Linked DNA regions of Homo sapiens: region 2 is linked to region 1. A link means that fine-mapping ties the variant in region 1 to the expression of a gene that starts in the linked region. Tissue or cell type: hippocampus. Region 1 holds a variant in brackets; the other region holds the start of a gene. All regions are shown on one strand. Distances are between the middles of the regions.

The links. PIP is the estimated chance that this variant, and not a neighbour inherited with it, causes the effect.
Region 2: it holds the start of LRRC20, and the variant in region 1 is fine-mapped to the expression of LRRC20 in hippocampus (GTEx, PIP 0.93).

The regions. Positions count from the first base shown.
Region 1 is chr10:70,350,571-70,358,675 of GRCh38, forward strand. The region is part of intron 2 of LRRC20 (leucine rich repeat containing 20); the gene reads right to left. Among named protein-coding and RNA genes, the nearest start is that of LRRC20, 28 kb to the right of the region's middle. RefSeq lists enhancers at 4,776-4,875, 5,096-5,305. The variant T/C (reference allele first, on the strand shown) is at 4,227.
Region 2 is chr10:70,378,242-70,386,346 of GRCh38, forward strand. It overlaps LRRC20 (leucine rich repeat containing 20), which reads right to left and starts at 4,384. Exons shown (of 5, transcript NM_001278212.2): 1 at 4,308-4,384. RefSeq lists enhancers at 3,595-4,214, 4,059-4,258, 4,789-4,888 and a silencer at 4,289-4,658.

The DNA of each region.
Region 1 (8,105 bases):
CTTGCATGGTGACTTAGAAATATAGAACTTTGACCCCTGCCAGCCCCTGCTGAGAAGTGGGCCTGGTGACAGGGCCCAAGAGTGGGAAATGGAGCAGGACTTCCCTGCCAACCAAGTCACAGGGCCCAGAGGCGAGGGTGTCAGGGACTCAGGCCAGTAGGCACATGGGCTTGTGACCTAGCCAAGAAGTAAGGCTCCCAAGGCTACTGGAGGAACTCTGTGGCCAGTGTGACCCACTCCCACTGAGAAGCTTTCTTCATGGAATCTCAGGGTTAGGAGACCGGGGGTCCTTTGGCCGACGTTTGCCAAACTTCTGAGTTAGAATCAACTGAAGGCTGGGCACAGTGGCTCATGCCTGTAATCCTAGCACTTTGGGAGACTGAGGCAGGATTGCTTGAACCAAGGAGTTTGAGACCAGCCTGGGCAACACAGTGAGACCCTGTCTCTAGAAAAATAAAAAATTAGCCAGTCATGGTGGTGCACACCTGTAGTCCCAGCTACTCAGGAGGCTGAGGTGGGAGGATTGCTTGAGCCTAGGAAGTCAGGGCTGCAGTGAGCCGAGATCGTGCCATGGCACTCCAGCCTAGGTGACAGAGTGAGACCCTGTCTCAGAAAGAAAAAAAAAAAAGAGACAATCATCTGAAGAGGCTGGTCCTTTCATCCTCCCCCAGATATTCTACCTTTCAGTGAATCTGGGATGGTGCCATGAAATTTGTTTTTAACAATATCCCCAGGTGATTCTTATCAATAGGCAAACTTGGGAAACACTGAGTAACACAGCCTCCAATCTGAGGCCTGAAATCTCTCCATGTCTCCATCTGAGGTCATAGAGTTCTCCTTGAACACTGGTGATGGGAGGGCTCCCTCCTCCTTCCATAGAATGAGTTTAATTGTTAGAGAGTTCTTTAACGAACTGTATTAATAACTGCCACCCTTCACCACTCACCAGTCCTGCTGCCCTCTCTTCTGCATGGCAATCCTTCACATAAATGATGACAAAGGACATTATAAACATTTTCTTTTTAATTATTGTAAAATACACATAACAAAAATTTAGCGAGCGATATGACCAAGTTTTACGGGAAAACTCCCGTGATTTTCAATCAAACATTGCATAAGTAGCCAAGGAGCAATGAATAGCAGCAACTAGAATCATGGAAGCCATGCATCTATAGGCATGAGGAATGGGAGGGATGTCTAACACGTCCAGTGTGAGTTGTGGAGGGAAATGTAATTGATCGATCCTAATCACTGACTCTTGGTCAACTTTACAGTTTCTGCAATACAAGCTTGTGATTTATGCTTACTCTCTAGTGGAAATCAGGATTGTTATGAAGACTTAAGGCTCAATATTTTTTAACACAATACTCATCTAGGATGTAACAGTGAAGCCGAGTAAACTACAACTGTTGAGCAAGTTCCAGCTTTTCTCAAGTTAGTTATATTATAGGGTGTACTTAGTAAGCATATTTAGGTGAAAGAAGTTGAATTATGTTAAATGTTGCCCTTTGCCACATTACACTGAACACTGGATGCATGTGGAAAGACATGCTTTGTTTTTTGTAAAACTCAAGGTAGGAGCTGTGTCTAGAAACATTTTGGCATGTTTGTTAATTCTAGTTTCACTTAATAACTTGTAAGGCATGTACGTTTAAGCTTTTTTTTTTTTTAAGTTAATGGGAAAAATCTGAAACGCAATACCAATACTTTAGAATTTTGGCCTTGGTGTTTGTATGAAATTCTGAGGCCTTGATTTAAATCTTTCATTGTAGTGTGACTTCCTTTTAGGTATATTGTGCTAAGTGAAACTTGTCAAATAAATCCTCCTTTTAAAAACTGCTAAAAAAAATGTAGCATTTTATCAGTGGCAAGGGATTAGCAGGCAGAGCACAGAGGATTCTCAGGCGGTGAAAGTGACATGTGGCAGACACATGTCATTATACATTAATCTGAGCCTAAGGCTGTACAACACCAGGAGTGAACCCTAATGTGAACCATGGACTTTGGGTAACAATGATGCACCAACGTAGGTTCACCAATTGTAGTAAATATGCCCCTCTGGTGGGGGATGTTGATCATGGAGAAGGCAATGCCTGTTTGTGGGCAGTGGGGAGTATATTGGAAAATCTCTATTCTTAACTCTTAATTTTGCTTGTGAACCTTGTGAACCTAACACTCCCCTTTAAAAATTAAATATTTTTTAAAATGTGCCATCTTAACCATTTTTAAATGTACAGTTCAGTAGCTTTAAGTATATTTACATTGTTGTGCAATCAACTAATCTCCAGGACTTTTGCATCTTGCGAAACGGAAACTCTTTACTTGTTAACCCCCTATTTTCCCATCCCCCAGCTGCTGGCAACCACAGAACATTATAAACTTTTTTCCAGGCAAAAACATCCCCAGAAACTTCAATCCTCATGGTTCTGGCTGCTCCCGTGAGAGGAGCAGGACCAACCTAGCTCAGACTCTGGCCTGGCCAGAACTTTCTCCTGCACCGGTGTTGAGTCTCTAACACATAACTGCAGCCACCACTGATTGACACCAGGTGTGTTCCAGAAGCTGTGCTGGGGCTTCAGACCTTTTATTCCCTCCATTCCTCACAACCACCCTATAAATAGGTCACTACTATGCTTACCCCTGGTTAACAGTTAAGGAAACTGAGTCATGGAGAAGTCAAACAAATTGTTCTAAGTCATATGACTTATTCAAGGTCAACCAGTTAATGAAATAATAAAAAACATTTACAAAGTGCCTGCTGCTTGCAATTAGTGATCTCAGCTTGTCATGCATTAACTCAGTTAACCCCCACAACATCACAACATCCCCATGAGACAGGCACTATTTTGTATTTTTTATTTTTTTGAGACAGAGTCTCACTCTGTCACCCAGGCTGGAGTGCAGTGGTGTAATCTCGGCTCACTGCAACCTCCGCCTCCTGGGTTCAAGTGAGTCTCCTGCCTCAGCCTCCTGAGTAGCTGGGACTACAGGCATGCACCACCACGCCCAACTAATTTTTGTATTTTTAGTAGAGAAGGGGTTTCACCATGTTGGCCAGGCTGGTCTCGAACTCCTGACCTCAGATGATCCATGAGATGGGCACTATTATTACTATTCCTGTTGTACAGAGGAGGAATCAAGACACAGAGCCAGGAGTCTTGGTTAGTAAGCTGCTGAGCTTAAGGGTTTGCTCCTAACCACCATGCTACACTGCCTCCCTAGAATATGTAACCCGCATTCAGGACAGCCTGCCATGCTGAAACAGATTGGGAGGTGGTGGGTTTCCAATGAGCAGATAGATCTTCCATGATTTACAATGGGTTCCCTGGGAACACTAGTATATTGCAGTTCCCATGGAACTATATAAAAGGGGACTTAGAGTTGAAAGAGCTGGTGAAAGAGTCATCAGGGTATCAACAGCCTGGATTTGTCACTTACTGTCTGTGGGACCTTGGGTCCTTATGCCCTTAGTTTTCAAATCTTGGTAAATTGCAACTGATCATCTCCAAGGCCCCTTGCAGCTGCCACTGTGGATTCTAGGACTTGGCCACAACCAGGAGCCACCTTGGGAGCTCTATAGACTCTTGATGCCTAAGTCTCTCTCCCAGAGAGTCTGATTTAATTAGTGGGGGCTGGGGCTTGGGAATGGAAGGGAGGGTAAAAGCTCCCTGGGTGACTCTAACGTGCAGCCAGGTGAACTCTGCACCATACCATCACCTCTCAAACTAAAGTGTGACACCTGGGGACACTGCCAACGTGCAGATTCTGATGCCACATGTCTAGGTGGGGCGTAAGAGTCTGCATTTCCACCCAGCAGGTCCAAGGACCACACTAAGTAGCAAGGGCTACTCCAGTGCAGTGGTTCTCCAAGGGCATCAGCATCACCCACAGCATTAGCATCACCCCAGAACTTGTCAGAAAGGCACATTCTCAGGCACCACCCCAGTCCCACAGAATCAGAAACTCTGGGGGTAAGGCCCAGGCATCTGTGTTTTAGCTGAAGCATCACTGGCCTAGAGGGGCCAGGCCTCCTCCTGATGTAGCTGCTTCCTGTATTGATGATGATAATGGGGTGGTAATGACAGTAACTGAGTGCTGGCTGCTCCTGCCTGCCTAAGGGCATGAGGTTTACACGCTCATGGAAATTTTTTGTGCCCTGGGTTCCTCCTGCTTCCCCTCTGAGCAGACTATTTCAGGACAGAGCAGCAGAGACAGAGTCTCTTCAC[T/C]CTCTTCTCTCGCTTTGTTCATGCTTCTGGTACTCAGAGGCACACGTGACCCTCGGTGTGGAGGCCGCCCTGGGCTGTAACTCAGGAGGCCTAATTCTTATCCCAGCCCCTCCACTATCAGCCAGGGGGAGCTCAGAGACACTACTTCTTCATGGGCCTTGTCCCCTCATCTGTAAAATGAGGGTTTGGACTAGATGATTTGGGGTCTCAACCAGACCAGACATCCTCTGACTCCATGATTCTACTAAACAAAGGCTCTTCAGACAGCCCTCTGTCAAACAGGAGCCCCCCATGACTTGAGCTGCCAGTCTCTGAAATGTCACTCAATTTCCAAAGTAGGGACACACAGGATGCAGACAGCGAGCAAAACAACTGCTCATCAAGGGATCGTGCCGTGCATCACTGGGCACAATTAGGCATCACTTTAACAAAGCTGTTTGTTGTAGTGCTTACAGAGCTGGCTGGCTCTAAAAGGCTTAAGACAAAAAGCAGCCGGACTTGCTCCCTCTTGACAAATCCCCTCCCCCAGGGACAACCACTTTCAGGTCTTTGGGGGTGTTTTACTCCCGATCTCTAGAGCAATGTTTCTGAGCCTGTTTCCTGTCTCATGCCCCTTATAGAGAAAAGGGCATGGGAGGAAGAGCTCACCGAGGACCACATACGTCCAGAAAGTCCCACCGCAATAGCACACACAGCTACTGGGCCCGGGAGGGTTGTCGGGAAGAGAAGGGCAGAAAGGCACTTCGGGAAGGCGCGTCTTCTGAGACGTGGGGAAACCACTCAACTTGAAAGTGCCAGTGGGTTTAGGGGGATTTTTTTCTTTCACTTCCTATTTCATGGACTTGTATATTGTGCAAGAGTTTTACAAGCACTTAATGACTTCTTACAAATATCTCCAGTTTAAAGAAAGGAACATCCCCAACATGCAGTGACCCTTGGGGTATGTTTTTCCTCAAACGCCCAAAAACCTGGATCAGTGGAGATGGGTGTTGATGGGGACATAGGGAACAGAGCTAAAGTCCTGCCAGGGCAAAGCTCACGGGAGCTGCTGGGGAGAGCAGCCGCACGCTCAGAGGGCTGTGTGGACACCCCTCTGACAAACGCACACACGAATCCTGCATCTCAGAGGTGCCTTCTCACGTCCTGCTGCAGAAGCCCCTGCCTCTCTAGGAAATAATGTGCTACAGAGAGTTGGCCTCAGAGAAGAAAGCTGAGCATGAGGCCCTCCAGCCAGTGGCTATCATACTCAGTCAGAATAACTTCTAACCACACAAGAGACCTAGAAAGCAATATCTTCTTCTCAGAATCCAAATTGAATCCTTTCTTGGGCCAACTCTTTCTTGCTGTGGGACCTCAGGCAAGTTACTTAACTCCAATCTCAGTTTCTTCTTCAGTAAAGTGAGGACAAGAGCTCTTTCAAAAACCTGTATGCAATCTGGGCATGGTGGCTCACGCCCGTAACCCAAGCACTTTGGGAGGCCAAGGTGGGAGGATCACTTAAGTTCAAGAGTTCAAGACCATCCTGGGCAACACAGTAAAACCCTGGTTCTATAAAAAATACAAAAAGTAGCTGGGTGTGGTAGTGCATGCCTGTAGTCCCAGCTAGCTACTTGGGAGGCTGTGGTGGGAGGATCGCTTGAGCTTGGGAGGCAGAGGTTGCAGTGAGCCAAGATCATGCCACTGCACCCCAGCCTGGGCAACAGAGCCAGACCTTTTGAGACTTTGTCTCAAAAAAATAAAAACAAATAAATAAAGTTTTAAAACCTGTATGTAGTGCTGGGCAGAGTAGCTCACACCTGTAATCCCAGCACTTTGGGAGGCCGAGGCGGGCAGATCACGAGGTTAGGAGTTTGAGACCAGCCTGGCCAATATGGTGAAACCCCGTCTCTACTAAAAATACAAAAATTAGCAGGGTGTGGTGGCAGGTGCCTGTAGTCACAGCTACTCAGGAGGCTGAGGCAGAAGAATTGCTTGAACCCAGGAGGCGGAGGTTGCAGTGAGCCAAGATCGCGCCACTGCACTCCAGCCTGGGCAACAGAATGAGACTCCACCTCAAAACAAAACAAAACAAAAAACAAAGCAAAACAAAAAAAAACACCTGTATATAAATGTTCACAGCAGCATTTTCACAATAGTTGAAAAGTGGAGACAATCCAAATGTCCATCAGCTGATGAACAGATAAAGGACATGTCATATATCCATTCAATGGAATATTATTCAGCCATAAAAAGGAATGAAATCCTGACATGGGCTGCAACATGAATGAACCTTGAAAACATTTTGCTATGTGAAGGAAGCCAGTCACAAAAGGACAAATGTTGCATGATTCCATTTACATAAAATGTCCAGAAGAGGCAATCTATAGAGACAGAAAGTAGACTGGTAATGGCCTGGGGCTGGGCGGAGATCAGGAAATGGGAAAGGACTCCGCATGGTACAGGGTTTCTTTTTTGGGTGATGAAAATGGCTTAGAATTAGACAGCAGTGATGGTTATACAATCTTGTGAATATACAAATAAATACTGCATTGTATATTTTAAAATGTAAACGTTACAGTATTTGAATATACCTCAAAAAGAAATGAGGACAACAGGATCCAACGAACAGGTGGTTCTGAGCATGAAATAAAACGTCTGCAAGGCTCTTAGCACAGTGCCTGGCAGGTAGTTTGTGCTCAGTAAGTAAGAGATGCTGCTATGAGGATGCAAAAGTATTACTTTTATTTGAGAATCTGACAAAGATGTGCTTCAGCTCTGTCATCCCTGGAGGAGAGAAATGACCTCTGGATTGCATTTATTCTCACAAGCCCTGGACGAGGAGACAACCGCATGTGCTATCATGGGCTCTGGGACTTTCCAAAAAAAACCCTCCTTCCTGGCAAGCCAGTAAGGAGAAAAGAAGCCCATATTCAATTAAAATCAAAAGTAAATCCCACACAGAATACAATCAAATGACACACAGTCAACAATTTGAGACATTAAATTATTTTGATTTCACTGATGACTCATCACAAACGTATACATACAAAAGGGAATAGAAACAGCAGCCAGGATGACACTAACAGTATGGCCACTAATGGCTCTAAAGGGACCACAGCTGGTCCGAGTGGAGGAGGCCACGTGGCCAAGCCAGACCTTGGAGAGGCTTGGGCAGGCCCTGAGGTCTTCCTGCAAGGAAAGCATCAATCAGTCCCTTTTTGCAGAGAAGGAAACAAAAGCCCAGAGAAGTTAAGAACTTGCTCAAAGCCACACACTAAGTAGGCAAAGGGTAGAGTTTGACATCTTCTTGAGAACATCGCCCTACAGAGAAAGTCCAGAAACCCGGATCTGCTGCTGCCTTTAACCCAGTGTCTTTGGGCAAGTCACTTATGGGGCCTCAACCTCCCTATCTGTGAAACACAGAAATGAACACAGCCTATGTCTCTCCAAATGTGGGATGCACAAAACTACTCTCAAGGTTATCTTCGGGTGTGATGAGATGCCAAACAACGCAATCCACTTGGAGCAGGGCAGAGGGCGAGGGGGCAGCAGATGGAAGCTGCGAGAGCCACACCCGCTGAACCGACACAGCACCCTGGGGATAGAGGGCTGCAGTTACCAACTGACCAGATTTCTACAGCAACTTTCTCCTCCTCGGACAATCTTTCAGGGCTTGATATAGCAAGGAATCCACCCCTGTAAGCAATGGCTTCTCAGAACAGTTGTTTGTCCTCCTGATCTCACAGATGCATGACTGATGGGACCCAGGAAGCAGCAACAAATGTCGCCAACCAGTGCCTTGTGCACCACGTCTGCCCCAGACAGACACCACTGCCTGGCATGGCTGGCCTCAACCACCTGCCACTCCTCAAGCTCACCGACCATGCTGACTGGCTACCG
Region 2 (8,105 bases), 28 kb after region 1:
CTCCAGGAAATCTCCTCTTATTGCCTCAGTGTTCTCTCCTTCCTCTGAGTTTCAGTAGCACTTAATGACTTAGCACAAGTCACCTGGATTATTTATGAGCTTTTAAATATACACTTGTCAGCCGGGCGCAGTGACTCATGCCTGTAATCCCAGCACTTTAGGAGGCCTAGGCGGGTGGATCACTTGAGGTCGGGAGTTGGAAACCAGCCTGACCAACATGGTAAAACTCCGTCTCTACTAAAAATACAAAAAAAAAAAAAAATGGTCGGGCATGGTGGCTCACACCTGTAATCCCAGCACTTTGGAAGGCCGAGGTGGGCAGATCACCTAAGGTCAGGAATGCAAGACCAGCCTGGCCAACGTGGTAAAACTCCATCTCTACTAAAAATACAAAAATTAGCTGGGCGTGGTGGCGGGCGCCTCGGGAAGCTGAGGCAGGAGAATCACTTGAACCCAGGAGGCAGAGGTTGCAGTGAGCCGAGATTGTGTCATTGCACTCCAGCCTGGGCAACAAAGAGTGAACCTCGCGCTCAAAAAAAAAAAAAAAAAAAAAAATTAGCCAGGCATGGTCGCACATGCCTGTAATCCCAGCTACTCAGGAGGCTGAGGCAGGAGAATCGCTTGAACCCAGGAGGCGGAGGTTGCAGTGAGCCGAGATCGTCCCATTGCACTCCAGCCTGGGTGACAAGAGCAAAGCTCTGTCTCAAAAATAAATAAATCAACAAACCAACACTTGTCTCCCCCATTGACCTGTGGGCAGCTTGGGGCCAGGGAATAGACCTATACTGTGCTTCTCTCCACACACTGAACACAGGTGCTTAGTTAGTATCCCCTAATGGTGAAGATCAACAGACATCATTTGTGTTTCCAATCTGAATACAGGTCAAGAGACTCTTACAACAAATCTAAGACACTGTCTAAATTGAGAAGGGTCAAAAACCAAATGCCTAATAGTGCCAGGTGGCCAATCTGCATAAGGCGAGCCAGTGCAGGGCAGAAGGGAATAGAAAGGACTGTGGCAAACTGGACCCAACAACTTCACCATGCTGCCTCGAAGACCGTACCCCTAAGCCTAAATCATAGCCATGTTGCTAGCATCTTGGTGACTTGTTCTAACCACTTTATGAATGGGAAAGCTGAGGACCCAAGAGGGGAGGCAAATCAGCTAGATGAAAACAAAAAACCCAGGTATCCTAAGTCCAAGCCTAGGACTCTTCCCACCATTCCATGCTCCCTCCTTTCTCCATCTCCAATTCATCATCAATAATCATAAACATTTACTGAGCATCTCCTAGGTATGAGGGATAAGAAGGAAGAGGGAGAAAGAAATGCAGGAAGCAGCTCCGACTTGCGATTCTGATGAGGAAGAGCTTTCTGAAGAACAGCACTGAAGCAATCCTGGCCTCACAGCAGAGAGGGAAAGGAAGGGAAGCCACCAAGCTGCCCAGGGTAGGGGGTAGGCCTGGTGGGATCACCTGGGCTGAATATTTTCAATCAGGCACTATGCCTGCAATTCTACTAGCTACCACCAGATGGGGAGGTGGTGCCTTAGACCAGCGGTCCCCATCCTTTTCGGTTTCCTGGAAGACAATTTTTCCCACTGTAGTGGGAGAGGAATGAAACTATTCCACCTCACATCATCAGGCATTAGATTCTCCATAAGGAGCACACAACCTAGATCCATCGCATTCGCAGTTCGCAATAGGGTTCAGGCTCCTAGGAGAATCTAATGCGGCCGCTGGTCTGACAGGACGCAGAGTTCAGGCGGTAATGCTTACTGGTGCTCACCTCCTGCTGTGCAGCCGGGTTCCTCACAAGCCACGGACCTATGCCATCCACAGCCCAGGGGTTGAGGACCCTTGCCTTAGACCACTGATGAAAACTAGTCAGATTAAAAATTTCACCACTGGTGGCAAGTTCAGACGTCCTATTGTGTGGGTCAGAGTGTACACAGGTACAGGAACAGAAACAACATGTAAAGTCTAGGTGTCAGGGCAATTCAGTAGGAAGAAGGGCCCCTTCCTTCTATGCCAGAGGATGGAGGATGCTCTGAGTACAGCAAAAATGTGCTCGGGACCCCCAAAAGGTTCCCGCTGCTTAAAATCACCACGCTTATTAACTAGCTAGGAAGCCATCCTCCCTTCACCTAAAACTGCCCCTTTCTCCACAAGGAAGAATTGTTTCATGAAGTCCAGCTGACAGGCCTGAGCTCCTCAGGGTACCTGGTCAATGCCATCTGCAGGGATGGTGGTAGTGGAGAGTCACAGAGTGTTCCAAAAGGCAGAAACAGACACCATCAGCCCACATGGGCCAGATCGCCGCTTGGGGCACCCCAGCCAGCTGGCACTACTGGCCCCAGCCAGTCCCAGGCAATAGAGGGTAGGCCTTAGAAAATGTCAGGGAAAGCACTCCAAATCCCAGAGACACTTCAGCACAGGGTCGAAGCTCATACTCACACTGCCTACATCCTCAAAGCATGGCCCTCTCCACACACCCTCAACCCCATTCCTCAGAGTGAGCATCCTGGTCCGGTGAAATGTTTAAATCCAGCAAACGTCTCCTGGACACCTTCCATAAGGCCCCCACTGTGGGAGTAAAGGGGCAGAGACTGGGTATGGGCTAGAACAAGCTTCCCACTGGGAGGCAGGATGAGCCTGATAGTAGTAAGGCTACAGGGCCAGGCCTAGGGGGGCATGAAGGCACATGGCATGGCCAGGGGGAAGGGACAGGGGTGAGCAGCAGGTGCACAAAGAGATTCAGGAGAGAGAGAGACAGGGAGCCAATGGGCTCCCAGATTACTGAGGAAGGGAACTGCAGCCCTCTTACAAGGCTGTCCTCTGCTTCTGTGTAGCGAACTAAGAGAAGTTTTTTGAGGAAGGCAGCCTAATCCATAGTTTTGCAAAGTTAACAGTGTTGTGAGCAGTCCCATTTGTAAAATGGAAATACCACCTTCCTCACCGGATTATTGTGGGAAGTAACTGATATGTAACTTTTGGGAAAGGACTTTGCGAACCATTACATGTTTCCCACACCAAGGCATTACCAGTAGGTAATCAAACAGGTGTAGAGAGGAAGTTTGGATGTAATAAATTCAATGCCAGACAAAAACGTTGTCCTGCTTTGGGGGAGCTGGCAATACAGCCCTCCTGTCCCTATAACCTGGTTTCACCTGGACTCAGGCTGGCTGGGGGAGGGGTGATTTTTGCTTAAACCCTGACCTGGCCCCCTGACTCCAGCCCTTACCATCAATAACTCTACCTTATCTGCAGTCCGGAGACCTCTGCAAAGGAGCCGCTGCGACAGCCCGTCCCCACCATCTGCTCCTATATTTAGTTACTGGTGTTGTCAGTTGGGAACGTTAGAGCCTGGCAGGGGCTCGGATGGGCAACCGGAGCCTCCGGAGCCATGTGTGCAAGCTGGCCCTACCGCTGGCTCCAGCCCGGGCTCTGGACCATGCCAAGCCGGGGAGCGGGTGGGGAGGTGAGGAGCGACCCAAATAGTCCCAAACCCCCCTTCAGATCAGAACGAAGTTGACCCACTTCCCCACCCCAGGGAAAGAAGCCCGCTGGGACGTGAGCGGGACCTGCTGGCGCCTTGTTTTTGTGGCATGGGGTTCGGGAAGCTCAGCGCGTGCTCCCTCGCTAACATCTAGGCATCCTCGGACTGAGCCTCCAGCACTACGCGCGGTAGCCAGGCAAGGGTCCCCCAGCCCCGCGTGCCAGGATCCGCCTCACCCCCGGTGCCTGCAGCCAATGGCACCTCGTCCGCTGGCCCGGCAGGCGGGGACTGGGAGAATAAAGCTGGCAGAGGGAAGAATGGTAGTGATCGCAGAGGCCCCGGGGCTCCCACGCTGCCCGGAGGCCGAGAGGCACGCTCTGGAGCAGGCGTCTGCAGCTCCCCAGAGCGGAAGCAAACCCCGAAAGTGTCGCTTCGGGGACGAAATGCACAGCAGCCTCTCCAAGCAAGGGCGCCTCCCGCGAGGAATGGAGGCCCGCCTGGGAGCGGTTCTCCGAGCTCCCTATTCCCTGGCACCTCTGCACCCACTCCCCTGAACCATCGGGGTCCAGGTGCAGTGAGCAAGCAAGAGCCCGCGCATGCCGAGCCCCTTGGCACCGCCAGAGCCTCCGCTGGTGCACCGCTGCTCTTTTCCACCGGGTGACCTGGGGGAGGGGAGGGGACGCTGCAAAAATCGGAACACTTCTCGCCCTCTCTCCCCCAGCCCCTGCAACGCTTGACCTCGGACTACATTTACTTTGCGGGGCAAGAAGCGTGTGGTCCCGCTCCGGGCCGCTTTTGGCTCCACTTACGGCGACAATGCCTCCTAGCGCCCTGCGCAGCGCAGTCACGCTCCCTCCGCCGCCGGCGGCGCCCCAGGCGAGTTCCGAGCCGGCGGGGCGGGGCGCGCGGGGCTGCGGGATCTGCGCGCGCGGCCACTCCGCCAATCCCGGCGCCAGGACCGGCGCCGCGGCGGGAGCAGGCTGGGCTCGGGATGCGCTCAGCCAATCAGTGGGGGAGCGGCGCGCGCGGGGGTGGCGCGCGGAAGGGCAGCCCGCGCGCTCCCGGCCGCAGGGAGTAACCGCTTTGTGTGCTGCTTCTAGAGGGAGAACGCCTGAGGGGGCGGAGATACAGAGTGGGACGCGCAGTACATCCCAGGATCTCTAGGACCGGGGCTCCAGATTGGGTTTTCTCGAGGGAATGGAGTTGAATTAGCCAGATCAGGGATACTTTGAAACACGTGAACATGGAGCATAGGGAAATTTTCCTATGATGACTTCGGGTGCCCATTGAGGTTTTTAGTATATGCAAGGCCCTGTGTCTCGGCCCTGCGTCTCCAATCCTAATGTTCTCATCTATAAAATATGACTTGAGGGCGGGGCGCGGCGACTCACGCCTGTAATCCCAGCACTTTGGGAGGCCGAGGTAGACGGATCACCTGAGGTCGGGAGTTCGAGACCAGCCTGGCCAACATGGCAAAACCCCCGTCTCTACTAAAAATACAAAAATTAGCCGGGCGTGGTGGCAGGCGCCTGTAGCCGCAGCTACTCGGGATGCTGAGGCAGGAGAATCGCTTGAACCCGGGAGGCGGAGGTTGCAGTGAGCCGAGATGGGCACTCCAACCTGAGTGGACAGAGTGAGACTCTGTCTCAAAGAAAAAAAAAAGAATATTTAATTCCGCCTCTAGGGGGTCTAGGCAGTCAAAGAACACACATTCCCTTGGGCCTCGATGGATGTTAAGGGTTACTTATGCCCTCTCCACCCCCAACAATATGTTAAAGTTCATCAGAATGTGATCTTATTTGGAAGTAGGGCCGTTGCAGATGTAATGAGTTAAGGTCATGCTGGAGTAGGGCGGGCCCCTAATCCACTGAGACTGGTGTCGTTGTAAGAGAAGAGACACAGAAGAGACGCACAGGGAGAACCACCTGTGGTGATGGCGGCAGGGATCAGCTGATGCATTTCCAAGGCCAGGAGTGCCAAGCACTGCCAGCAGGGACCAGAAGCTAGGAACGGGCAGGGAATAATTCCTCCTTCAGAGCCTCCAAAAAGGAACTAACCCTCCAGACACCTTGATTTTGGACTTAATAGCTTCCAGAGCTGTAAGTGAATAAATTTCTGTTGCCACCCAGTTTATGTCCATTTGTTATAGCAGCCCTAGGAAAAAACTACAATAGGTTAGTAGGAATAAAGAGAAGAGGATGATAAATATCTCCAAAGTAAGTCTTTTGAAACTGATTGCTTAGTATATGCAAAGCCTTGTGTCTTGGGGTATACTGACATGAATCAGACACAGACCCTGCCCTCAAGGGGTTACCAGTCAAGTGGATACTTAAGCAGCCATGTTTTCTGACCCCTTGTGCCTTCCCAGGGAAAACTATGGAGATCTCTCTCAACCCATCAACACCACATCCCTGCCAGATATATAGCAAGTACCAGATATAAATAACTAATGGGTAGAGTCCCATTCTGCCCAAGCCGAGATGCTGCTTGCCACTGTGGACAAAGCAGGCATAGCTACTTCTGTTTTCACTGAAAACCAGCATGACACTTCTACCCAACTTTTACACGTGGATGTCTTCTCTCCTCTGCTAGTCCATACGCAGACTTGAGACAGCCAGTACAGTGTTTCTGTACCCATGGTAAGGGCTCAGTATATACTGCTGGCTGATGGCCCCAGCCTGGGGTTTCCAACATTCATACTTTCCCTCAGACAGTCCCCTGTCCCAGGCAGTTCATCCTGGACCCTCTAACTCCACAGAGACAAGATCCCTCCCTAGCTCAAATCCACCTCTTCTATTCCTACTGTTTTTGCTTCTCCAGAGCACTTAGTGCATTATACCCATTATTCTATCATCTCTGCACAAGTCTTTACTCCCGAGAGTCTGCCTGATTGCAAATACCAGAGCTTGACGCATGTTCAGTGCTTGTATCCATCAGTGTTTCCTGCATAATAAAACACCCCAAAACTTAGTTGTGGCTTAAAACAATAACTACTTATTTAGTTCATGATTTTATGGGTCAGTATTTGAGGCTGGGCTTAGCTGGGCAGTTCTTCTGGTCTCAGCTGGACTCCCTCATGCATCCGGGTTCATCGCCAGGCAGTCAGAAGGCTCTGCTTCTGGGAAGTGGCTAGCTGCCAACTGAGGCAAGTAGGTCGCATGTCTCTCATCTACTAACAGGCTAGCCTAATTTGTTCACATGGAGCTGCAGGGCTCCGAGAGCACGAGTGGAATGGTGCAAGGTCTCTCAAAGTCTAGGCTCAAAATCGGCACTAGTCCACTTCCACAGTTGTATCGACTAAACCAAATGGCAAGGCCAACCCAGGTTCGAGGGTGAAGAAATAGACTCCATCTCCTGATGGGAGAAGCAGCGAAGTCACATTGCAAAGAATATGAGTACAGGGATGAGCAGAGAGTTGGGGCTAATTTTGTAATCTGTCACAGGACTCCATAAGTATTCTTGGGCTGGGCTCTGTGGCTCACGCCTGTAATCCCAGCACTTTGGGAGGCTGAGGCGGGAGGATCACTTGAGCTCACGAGTTCGAGAGCAGCCTGGCAACACGGTGAAACCCCATCTCTACAAAAAATACAAAAAGTAGCCGGGCATGGTGGCTTGGGCCTGTAGTCCCAGCTACTCAGGAGGCCGAGGTGGGAGGATAGCTTGAGCCCTAGAGCCCAGGAGGAAGACCAGGTCTCAAAAAAAAAAAAAGTATTCTCACAATACCTATTGGGTACTCAGAAAATACTTATCAACAGTGGTAAGATTTTCAGTCACTATGTTTACTGACTCCATTCAATGCAGTCAATTGGCAAAATATTATCCCTCACTGTTAGGGTCTACAAGCCTCACACCGTTCGTGGCCATTTTCAGTTTCAGAACAGCCAGTGAGGGAATCAGCGAGGTAGGGCTGTGCAAGGGAAGGCCCTGAGGCTTCTCGGTGAAGAAGCTCAACTGGCCCCAAACAAATAGTCTCCTCCGAGGAGATCCAGAGCATCTTTAGAGGCCTGGACCCCTTAGCAAGGTGGTCCAAGCCTGGCCACCTGAGTCAGAAGCTGTACACCCTGAACAGACTCGGATGTTTGCCAGGGCTTGGCTACAGCCTCCGGAGATGTTTGAAATCCTTGCAAATTACTTGCAGATAGGAAGAGTCTTGTGCTAAGACAAAATTGTTCTGTGGTTATTCCCTGAAGGGTCTGACCCCCACTGGGCAGGATAAATTCTCAGGGCACTTGTAAAAGGGACAGTATCCCATTGACAGAGTCAGCATCTCAACTCCTGTGACTGAAGACCCTGATAGAGTCTACTTCTCATCAAAGAACTTCTAGGCCTGCTAATTAGTTAATTTGTGCGCCCACCCCACATCCACCAGAAAAAAAAAAAGATATGTTGTAGTCCTAACCCCTAGTACCTCAGAATGTGGCCTCACTTGGAGGTAGCGTCTTTACAGAAGGAATCAAGTTAAAATTGAAGTCATTAGGGTGGGTCCTAATCCAATATGATTGGTGTCCTTATAAGAAGTGGTTATTGGTAGACAGGCAGACATGCATAGAGGGAAGATCATGTGAAGAGACACTGGGAGAAGATGGCCATCTACAAGCTAAAGAGAA